Regions from separate parts of the Homo sapiens genome. Here region 2 is linked to region 1. The links come from fine-mapping of genetic effects on gene expression. A gene starts in region 1. The other region holds a variant in brackets. All regions are shown on one strand. Distances are from middle to middle.

What was found. PIP is the estimated chance that this variant, and not a neighbour inherited with it, causes the effect.
Region 2: its variant is fine-mapped to the expression of APBB1IP in whole blood (TOPMed, PIP above 0.99).

The regions. Positions count from the first base shown.
Region 1 is chr10:26,436,058-26,441,442 of GRCh38, reverse strand. APBB1IP (amyloid beta precursor protein binding family B member 1 interacting protein) reads right to left here and starts at 3,102. Exons shown (of 15, transcript NM_019043.4): 1 at 2,988-3,102; 2 at 2,590-2,791. RefSeq lists enhancers at 2,769-2,848, 3,409-3,538, 3,256-3,785.
Region 2 is chr10:26,415,214-26,420,598 of GRCh38, reverse strand. No RefSeq gene overlaps it. Among named protein-coding and RNA genes, the nearest start is that of APBB1IP, 20 kb to the left of the region's middle. The variant A/T (reference allele first, on the strand shown) is at 2,282.

The DNA.
Region 1 (5,385 bases):
CAGGTACAATCTAGTCTCTTTAACTGGGTATAGGTGTAATGGCATTCCTTCATGCGGCTAGTTCTCTCTTTTCAAGAGAAATCTAATGATTACTGTTCCAGATATCTAGCAGTTTTCTCTAAAAGTCATGTTTCTCACGATAATTAAAAGTGTAATATGTATTTTAAAATCCCCATGCAACCAGTGTAGAAATCTTACACTTTAAAATCTGGCATTTATTATGTACATGAATTTATAATAAATGCTTAAGCTTTAAGTGACTTGCCTCTTAGATGACAGCAGTGACATAAAACACACACATTCATTTTCATACTGAGAAGATACCTGTTGTGTTAATAAAAATTGTTCTGTTTTGAGGCAAGCATTCCTAAGATCACCGTAGTCTCCATAATATAAACTCATGGGGTCCTATAAAATTGTAAAGATTGTGGTCCAATAGGCTATGGAACGCAGACAATTTATTATAAGATTTGTGGACTCACTAAAATGTTTTAGGCATAAAAATAATTAAAATAAAATTGAAGAGAATTAGAAGAAAATGAAAATAATAATGCTCTTTGGAAGTAAGATGGCTTAAAGAAAATTCAAAGTGACATATCAAACAGACATTTATGGCAATGAACTTTATAAGTAGCTCATTCTAATAATAATATGGAACTATTTAAAACTTTGATTGATGAGTGAAAAAAGGCAAATCAATAGTGGATAACTGGTGAACATTCTTAGGATATAAAAATACAAAAAATGTAATAAATACTATAAAACCTAGTATTGTGTTTAAGATTTAAAGTAATGCCATAAAGTAATTCATATTACAAAGTTATATTTCTTGAGAAATAGCAATTTAAAGATTTCAAAATATAATATTGACCTGTTCAAGTTTGGGCTGTTTCTTATCTCAGTTTTCAAATAAGATGGAAATTTGCCTTTTTACATATAGGCCAGATATTGACTGCGCTTTTACAGGAACTTCTCAGAAACAAAAGACCTCAAAGATATTGATATTTCAGAATGTAATCTGTTATGGTTATGATTATTTTCTCCATTTTTAAAAAATTTGTGATCAGCAATTCTAATGTTGATATAATGTTGCCAGTATTCCAGTTGGGACCAATTCAAAGAATTATAGCAACTCCTCAATTGCTATTTTAAGAACAGACATAATGTAGCCCAATCATCTCACTTTACTGACGTTATCTGAAGTCCAGGGAGAAGTTATGCAAGTTAATCAATATCATCCTTATCTAGATGGGGGAGATATAAGAGCCAGAACCCAGGTCTCCCAAGTGCTGAGAAAAAACCCAAATATTAGTAATTATTAATAGTTTAAGGATTAATAGTTTAAGGACACACATTATTAATAGTTTAAGGATGAAGTTAAATTTCTTAGACCTTTCACAACACACGTTGAGCAGACAGGAAATACCACTAGAAGACTTTATAAAGTATTTCTCAGCAGATCCTTGCTAATTTCGCCAGCCAGCATCATCGTCCTGGCCCATGTGCCACCCATTATTCCAGTGAGGCCAGAGGGAAAATCGCTGCTCTAGGTTTATGAAAAAGGACAAAGTTTTCCTTTCTGAAATTTCTCTCTGGAGACCCAGATTTTAAAATGAATAGTAGCTAGTACCGGCACCTTTGTTTAAACCACGTTATGCCACCAGAAAAAAACATCTGGGGGCATAATAAACTCACGGGCCCTTTTCTTTTGTTACTTTCCTCTAGTACTCCGTCTCGTCAAGGATCACATTAAAAGTTCTTTTGAACCGCTATGCCCTGAGTGTCTAGGAAACACATTTCACGTTCCACAGGGGTATGAACTAAGAAATACCTTAGCAGGAAAGTAAGAGGTACACCGGGCTAGGTCTTTGGTGGAACACCTGCGCAGAGGTTCTTGGAGACATTAGGACACCCTAGTTAGTTTCCTCCATTCTGTAAAAGGCCCTCTGGATATTCATTTCAAGCCAAATTATGAAACTTGTGCCTGGTGTCCAAATCTATCTTTATGGTATTTTAAAATGAAAATGAGAATATTCGGGGGAAAAAGTTATTTTTAAAAAGAGGAAAGAGTTGTCCAAAAGTTTTAGAGGAAGGAAACACTCTAAGATGCATCAGACTGCGAGCCACACTCAAATTCTCACACGGCTGGCATTTAATCCACATCTAATCTTGGCCCCTCAAGAATCCCTCCAGGTTCCGGGAGACTGGGGCTCCCGGACCTGCTGACCTGCTGACCTGCTGACCTGCTGGACGTGCAAGGGTTCATAGCAGTTCCCCGTTTGACCTTGCAGCAATTTCCTGGGCAGGAAATCTGTCAAATCTGTTGCAATAGCTCGGGAAAAAGCAAACCCGAACCCCAAACCCTCACACCCCCACCCTCGCGAGCCGGGTCCAGAGTGGAGATCAGCGGAGGGGACCCTGGGGACCCGCTGCGCTCGAGGGCCACGCCTGGGGGCACGCGTTCACGAGGCCAGATCCTGGAGCTGCCCCCGGCGTCGGACCCGACGGGCTTGACAAACGGGTTCCTGACAGCCCCGAGGGGCCCGTGCTGGCGCTCCCAGGGCTCCCGGGACTGGGAGCGCCACTTACCTCGACTGCTCTGCGGGGCGCTGCGGGGCGCGGGAAGGCGGCGAGACTCCGGCCGGGAAAGCGACGCGCGGTGCAGACTGCCGCACCCGGGCTCCAGGTCGCTGCCCCGGGGAGGAAGTGCTGTCAGCCCTGCCCTTCCCACGCAGCGCGCAGACGTGTGGCGCTATCCGAGCTGCTTTGCTCCGAGGTGCAAGGAAGGCCCCTGGTTAGAGACAGTGGGACAGACAAACATATGCGTAAAGGACTCCGAGTTAGGGGCTGCTTTCTCCAACTCATCGAGTCTGCGCCTGATTTTCTCTCCCCCATCCCACCCCTACTACACAACCACCTTGAAGGGATTTTTATTTTATTTTATTTTATTTTATTTTAATTCTGGGAAACGTTGCGCCTCCCCCTACCTGTGCCGCGCGCGCCCTTCTCTCAGGAGCGTCTCCTGGCGAATGGAACCATTTTGCAGCCTCGACGCAAGAGGGACTAAGGGATTGGGGCCTAGTGATGGTTCCACCAAAGACTGAGAGGCCGCTTTATGTTGCAACGGTCTCCCAAAGTGTTTACTTCAGCACTTTCTGGGCTTCCTCTTTTGGGCCGGTTGTGCAAGGCTTCCCGGCCGCCTGCAGCCCGCCCTCAGGGGACGCGGTGCAGGGCTGGACTGGCAACACGCGCGTCCCGGCCGGAGTTCAGCTGTCTCTCGGGTGGGGGTGGAGGAAGGGCGCGCTGGGCGGAGGCCCTTTCTCAACCATCAGGTTGGTAACCTCACCCTCCTCCCTCCCCACGTTTAACCACGCTCAGTTGGCCGGCCAGGGTGTAGAGGAATAGCACTGTCTTCATTGCTCGTAGAAATCCAAAATGGTCTGAACCCCGTGGAAGAGAATTGAGCAATATCTATTTAACTTATGTATGGATTCGCCTTTTGACCCCGTCATCCCACTTCCAGGAGTGTGTTACGAAGATCTGCTGATGAAAATAAGTAATGCACACGGCAGAGGGCATTCATGGACTCACTATTTGCAACAGCATAGGACTGGCTGGAAATAGCACCTGTCAGTTGGGAGTGGAGTTTCCTGAGAGAAAGTCGCTGGGGAGGTCTGAAAATACAGAAGTTAAAATCAGTTATGATTTGTAAATGCGGTTGAATAACCCTCCCCTTCTCCTCTACAGCTGTGTCTTCAAAGGCTTATATGTCAGGGAAGGTGGTGAAGACATAAAGACAGAAATTAGGTGCATGTGTTAATTAGGCAATTTCAAATAGTTCTGTCATTTATTTAATGAGAAACTATTCGTAAGCACCAACACTTCTAAGAACAATGAAAATAGTTAGAGGAAACAATTTCTGCTCTCATGCATGGTGCATTCTAGTTGGTAGAAAGCAGACAATAAACAAATTAATATTTAACATGTCAAGGAATGTAACTAGTTTTGAAGGAAGTTAAAAGGTGAGGGATAGAGAGTGATGGGCATGGGGATGGGGTTGCTGTATTAATTAGGGTAAATAAACGATAAATAAATAGAAAATATATTTTCTCCTCATGATTTTCTTAATAACAGTTTCTTTTCTCTAGCTTTCTTTATTGTAAAAATACAGTATTTATCTAAATACATATAACATAATATGTGTTAATTGACTGTTTAATATTATCAGTAAGGCTTCTGGTCAACAGTAGGCTATTCGTGGTTAAGTTTTGGGGGAGTCAAAAGACATACATGGATTTTCAATTGTGCAGCAGTTTGGTACTCCTGAAATCTGGCATTGTTCTGTTACAGTAGGTAGCTAGTCAGGCATGAGCAGGGCAGGAGAGGGCTCCTCCCACCCCCTACCAGGAATGTCAGGTGACCATCAGGTGATGATCAAGCAGTTGTTATCAGCCTTACTGATAACATAGTCGATTAACTCATATTATTTTATATATATTAAATACTGTATTTTTATAATAAAGTAAGCCAGAGAAAAGAAACTGTTATTAATAAAATCATAAGGAAGAGAAAATGTATTTTTCATTTATTTATTTATTATTTATTTATCCTAATTTTTTTTAATATAGCACCAGGGAAAGGCAGTCTCCCAATAGACAGAAACACCTGAAACTGGTATTTCTGTCTGATAAGTGACACTTGAGCTAGATCTAAATGGCATGAGAGATTAATCCACACTGGGTTTTTAGATGGGAATATTCCAGGCAAAAGGAACAGCACATTCAAAGACCCTGAGTTAGGAGAGCACTTAAGATATTGGAAAAACACCAAGGAAATTAGTACGGCTGAGCAGAGTGAGATGGGAGGGACAGACATGAGATGGGATCAAAAGGAAATGGTGCCCAGATTGTGTGCTATTTGGGAGCTGTGGAAGAGAATTTGATGTGAGTGAGATGGAAAGCCAGTGGAAGGTTCTGAGCAGAGTTGTAAGTGCTACATAAAATATAAAATCAAACAATGAGAGTGACTTTCTTGGGGCAGGGAAAGTGGTCAAGGATCACCTCTTTACAAAGTAATGAGAAGGGGCAGCCATTCAGAAACTTGGGAAAGGATTCCAAGAGAAGGAAGAACAAGAAGAGGGGCTGAGATAGGAACATAGAAAGTTCAAAAGAAGGCAGGCCAGTGTGCCTGGAATGTTCTGAAAGAGTAGGGCAGCAATAGTGGATGGGGACAGAGAGGTAAGCAGGAACCAGAACAAGCAGGACCTTGTAGCCAGCATTGAGGACTTTAGGTTTTATTCTAATTGCAATGGGGGACTATTGGAATGTATTTAGCAACTGAGTGCATGATTTGACTTAAGCGATAAGCCATCCTGCCAGTTGGTGA
Region 2 (5,385 bases), 21 kb after region 1:
TTCTTTGCTAGAACTCTATGACTTCTGGTAACAGAGGCCAAAACATACAAACTCCTCAGACTATCTGGTGAAACTCCATCAGGAATAGGAGAGTTTCTACCAGTTCCAATTTAAATAATTTTCTGTATGTGTGTATGTCAAGATTGTAATAGTTTGATTAAAGTAAGAAAGAAATGTGCATGAGAATGTATTGCAATGCTGCAATCTTAACCCTGTTTCATATTTGATTTTTATTTACTTATTTGTTTATTTTTTAATTGAGATGGGGGTCTCACTAAGCTGCCTGAGCTGTTCTTGAATGCCTGGACTCAAACAATCCTCCTGCCTCAGCCTCCTGAGTATTAGGTCTGTTCACTAATTTAGAACCACAGATTAATATTTGATAGCTTTTAATGGGCACAGAGTCATTTTTAAATGTTGGCCACAAACACTGTCCAGTTGAATATAAGGTAAATATAAACTAGTTCCCTAAGGCACTTCACGTTATTGGCAGGTCTTCTTCAATAAAAGTGTTTAAACAAGAAATGGGAAAAGGATTCCCTATTTAATAAATGATGCTGGGAAACTGGCTAACCATACGTAGAAAGCTGAAACTGGATCCCTTACTTACACCTTACACTAAAATTAATTCAGGATGGATTAAAGACTTAAATGTTAGACCTAAAACCATAAAAACCCTAGAAGAAAACCTAGGCATTACCATTCAGGACATAGGCATGGGCAAGGACTTCATGTCTAAAACACCAAAAGCAATGGCAACAAAAGCCAAAATTGACAAATTGGATCTAATTAAACTAAAGAGCTTCTGCACAGCAAAAGAAACTACCATCAGAGTGAACAGGCAACCTACAGAATGGGAAAAAATTTTTGCAATCTACTCATCTGACAAAGGGCTAATATCCAGAATCTACAAAGAACTCAAACAAATTTACAAGAAAAAAACAAACTACCTCATCAAAAAGTGGGTGAAGGATATGAACAGACACTTCTCAAAAGAAGACATTTATGCAGCCAAAAGATACATGAAAAAATGCTCATCATCACTGGCCATCAGAGAAATGCAAATCAAAACCACAATGAGATATCATCTCACACCAGTTAGAATGGTGATCATTAAAAAGTCAGGAAACAACAGGTGCTGGAGAGGATGTGGAGAAATAGGAACACTTTTACACTGTTGGTGGGACTGTAAACTAGTTCAGCCATTGTGGAAGTCAGTGTGGCGATTCCTCAGGGATCTAGAACTAGAAATACCATTTGACCCAGCCATCCCATTACTGGGTGTATATCCAAAGGATTATAAATCATGCTGCTATAAAGACACATGACACGTATGGTTATTGCGGCACTATTCACAATAGCAAAGACTTGGAACCAACGCAAATGTCCAACAATGATAGACTGGATTAAGAAAATGTGGCACATATACAGCATGGAATACTATGCAGCCATAAAAAATGATGAGTTCATGTCCTTTGTAGGGACATGGATGAAGCTGGAAACCATCATTCTCAGCAAACTATCACAAGGACAAAAAGCCAAACACCGCATGTTCTCACTCATAGGTGGGAATTGAACAATGAGAACACTTGGACACGGGAAGGGGAACATCACACACTGGGGCCTGTCGTGGGGGAGGGGGAAGGGAGGAGGAATAACATTAGGAGGTATACCTAATGTAAATGACGAGTTAATAGGTGCAGCACACCAACATGGCACATGTATACATATGTAACAAACCTGCATGTTGTGCACATGTACCCTAAAACTTAAAGTATAATAAAAAAATTATGATTTTTCATTACCTTAAACTATTTTTCTTATCTTTCTTAGAAATGAAAGAAAACTAGTTTGAGAAAATTCCTGCATTTTAAAATAAATCTCTATTTCAGCCAGACGCGGTGGCTCACGCCTATAATCCCAGTACTTTGGGAGGCTGAGGTGGGTGGATCACCTAAGGTCAGGAGTTCAAGACCCACCTGGCCAAAATGGCAAAACCCCATCTCTACTGAAAATACAAAAATTAGCTGGACTTAGTGGCACACGGTTGTAATCCTAGCTACTGGGGAGGCTGAGGCAGGAGAATTGCTTGAACCCAGAAGGCAGAGGTTGCAGTGAGCTGAGATCGCACCACTGCACTCCAGCCTGGATAACAGAGTGAGGCTCCATCTGAAAAAATAAATAAATAAATAAATAAATAAAATGAAATAAATTTCTATTTTAATGAGAGGCTTGTAGAAGAAGATATTAGCAGATTTGTATTGTAAATTTATGACATAAT[A/T]GTGTGGCTCTGCAAATAACAGCAAATATTGTTGATTATTATTTATTTTCCTTCTGTGAACATTAACTTTGTGAATTATGATGTTTTTCATTTTTACAATAAACATTTTTCTTAATAGAAAATTTTTAGTTTCTTTATTTACATACTGAGAAATGCATCTTTTTTAAGTGTACAATTTACTGAAGGTTTTTCCCCTTTGATCATGTTTTTAATTTTGATGAAGTTCAATTTATCCATTTGTTTCTTTTATGATTGTTTTTTGTGTGTGTCCTACCTATAAAATCTTTGCTGGCTCCAGGATCACAAAGATTTTCTTTTGCTTTCTTCTAGAAGTTTTATAGTTTTAGGTATAGTTTAAATTTATGCCTAAGATCAATCCTGAATTAATTTTTATGAGTTGTGTGAGGTAGGGGTTGAGATTCAATCTATTTTCATGCATTTATTCTGTTGTCCAAGCATCATTTGTTGAGCGGATTTTCCTGGTTTAGCACTGCTGTGGCTTGGGTGAGTTGGTCTAATTCTAGAGTTCAGTGATAGAAAGCCCAGCTGGCTCTCATACAGAGCTACACACCCTGTCTCTAGTCTAGCTTTTATGATTAAGAAGGTGATATTTTGGCTTCCAATAATCATTCACTTGTCTTTTGTTCAATATATTCAGAACTCAGGTGGGGAAGAGAGATGCTATTCACAACCCCTTCCATGAAGAGGTCTAGGTTCAAAGCCAGAGGCTAACTAGTTATAGGTCCAGGCTCTATGATATTTTTGATGGCTTCTTCCTCCTTGGGTTATTAAGTTACGTACAGTCCACAGCTCTAAGTAGTGTTTGGTTGAAGCACTTTTTTCCCCTTCATCTTCTTTTCATTGGAAAATGTCCTTGTTAACAGATAAATTTTTAAAATGATCAACTACAATTCTCATACAAATATAAAATCCATGCTTGTCAAATATTTTATTTAATTCATTAACTAATGAGGGAACCGGTAAGATGTTACAGTTGTTTCAAAGAAGCACATGTTTATATGCATAAAGAAATGTTGAAATGAATTTACAAACAGATTTAAAAAACTGGTCTATCTCCAATACCATAATCCATTACATTTCACCAGACACAAGTCAATTGCACTTTTGTGAGCAAGAATCATTGGCACTATTACCGGTTTTTCAGAATTTACTGTCTTTGAGAGTTGCAAAGCCTCTGGAGATAACCAGGATGGTAAAGCTAGACAGGACACCCACTAATCTTTTTTATCCATTTCGAAGTCTTTTGTAATTTTTCCTGACACTTTCTATCTTCACCCAGTTTCACATGGTGAGCCTAGTCCTGTTCTCTGCTACAAGAAGTCTAGCCAGCTACAGTTACATTTACTTGGTTTTATCTAATTGCCTTCTTGACCTTTCCACTTGAGTATTTAAGAGGTATGACATGGATAAAACTGAACTTTTGATTTTTTTCTTAAGCCAATTCTACCCCTAGTTTTTCTCATCTCAGTAAAAGGCATCTCTTCAGTCCAAAACCCATGAACCATCATTGGTTATTTATTCTTCCTCATCTAATGAATTAGCATGTCTTTATTATATATCCTTTTCTTTGTCTCTATCCTCACTTACTTAGACCAAGCCCCATGAACTATTCCTCGGGCCACTTCAATAACTTCTCAGCTGGTCTTTTTCCTTACCCTCTCACTCTCAATCCATTTTCCACACAGTAGGATGCATTAGTTTTTAAAAATATAGACAAGTAACATTTACCAATGCTTTTGTAGAGACAAGGTCCCCTATGTTGCCCAGGCAGATCTCAAACTCCTGGGCTCAAGCCATCTTCCCACCTCAGCCTCCCAAAGTGCTGCGATGAGAGGATTAAGTCACCACGCTTGGCAAATAAATCATTTTAAAACAGTCCTATGCTGGGCTATTATTGCTGCTATCTTTCTTTTATAAATGAGAAACATGACATGTGGATTTTAAATAATATGCCTACACCCACCCATGTAATAAATGGTAGAAATGATATTTAAATCTAGGTCGTCTGATTCTGGAGCTTGGACTATTAACCACTGTATGTCCTGCCTCCCTAAACAAGTCAGATTTGTCATTCCTTGCTTACATTAAATTTAAACTTGCTCTTGTACTTGGAATAAAACTTGGACTCCTTGCCAGACTTACAAGATCTGACGCCAACCCCACCTCTCCAACCTCATCTCGTTGCTCTCTCTCCCCATAGCAAACCAAATTCAAGCCATACTGGCATTTTCTTCTCTCTTCCTGAGTATTTATTTATGTAATGACAAGTCTTGCTCTGTTACCCACGCTGGAGTGCAGGGGTGCCATTGTAGCTCACTGCAGCCTCAAACTCCTGACCTCAAGGGATCCTCCCGCCTTGGCCTCCCAGAGTGCTTCGATTACAGGCATGAGCCCCCACATCTGGTCTTTTCCTGAATATTGAGAACCGCTTTGCTGCTTAGAATGCACACCTCCTGGCTCTTTGCTGAGTGGTGTCTCTGACCTTTGCAGTCTCAGCTTAAAGAAGTCCTCTTGCTCCTGTTGGGTGAGCTCCCTGAAGACACCGGGGCATAGCTGTAGTAGGGGTTAGTGGGTGTGTGGGAGGTAGAGAGCGGAGGGAACGTAGGGAGTCTTCATTTCTCCAAGCACATTGTTCTAAATTGGTTCTTCCTTTTCTAAGAGAGGTAGTGTGAAGTAGTCAGTTTAAACACCCAGATCAGACTGTGAAACATGAGAAGAAAGAGGTCAGAAGATCACTTTATGGTCTTACCAGCACCTGGACTGTAAAATGACACCAATCATAATGCCTTCCTGCCCTCATCACAAGGTTGGTGTGCAGATGGCAACATATTCAAGATGGCTTTGACAGCTGTAAACAGGAACAGATGTGAGTAACTTCAGGCCAATGTGACCTTCACACTCTAGTGGTGCCTTCACTTGTGAATTGTGCCCAGGACCAGGCAGTGAGGCCAACATGCTTAGAGAAGACCTCGATGAGCATGTCATTGTCCCATTCTGGGGACCTCAAAGACTCTGCACTCTATTTCTGCTCATGCAGCAATCTTCAGACACTATGCAATATTCTTCCAATGAACATAGCAAAT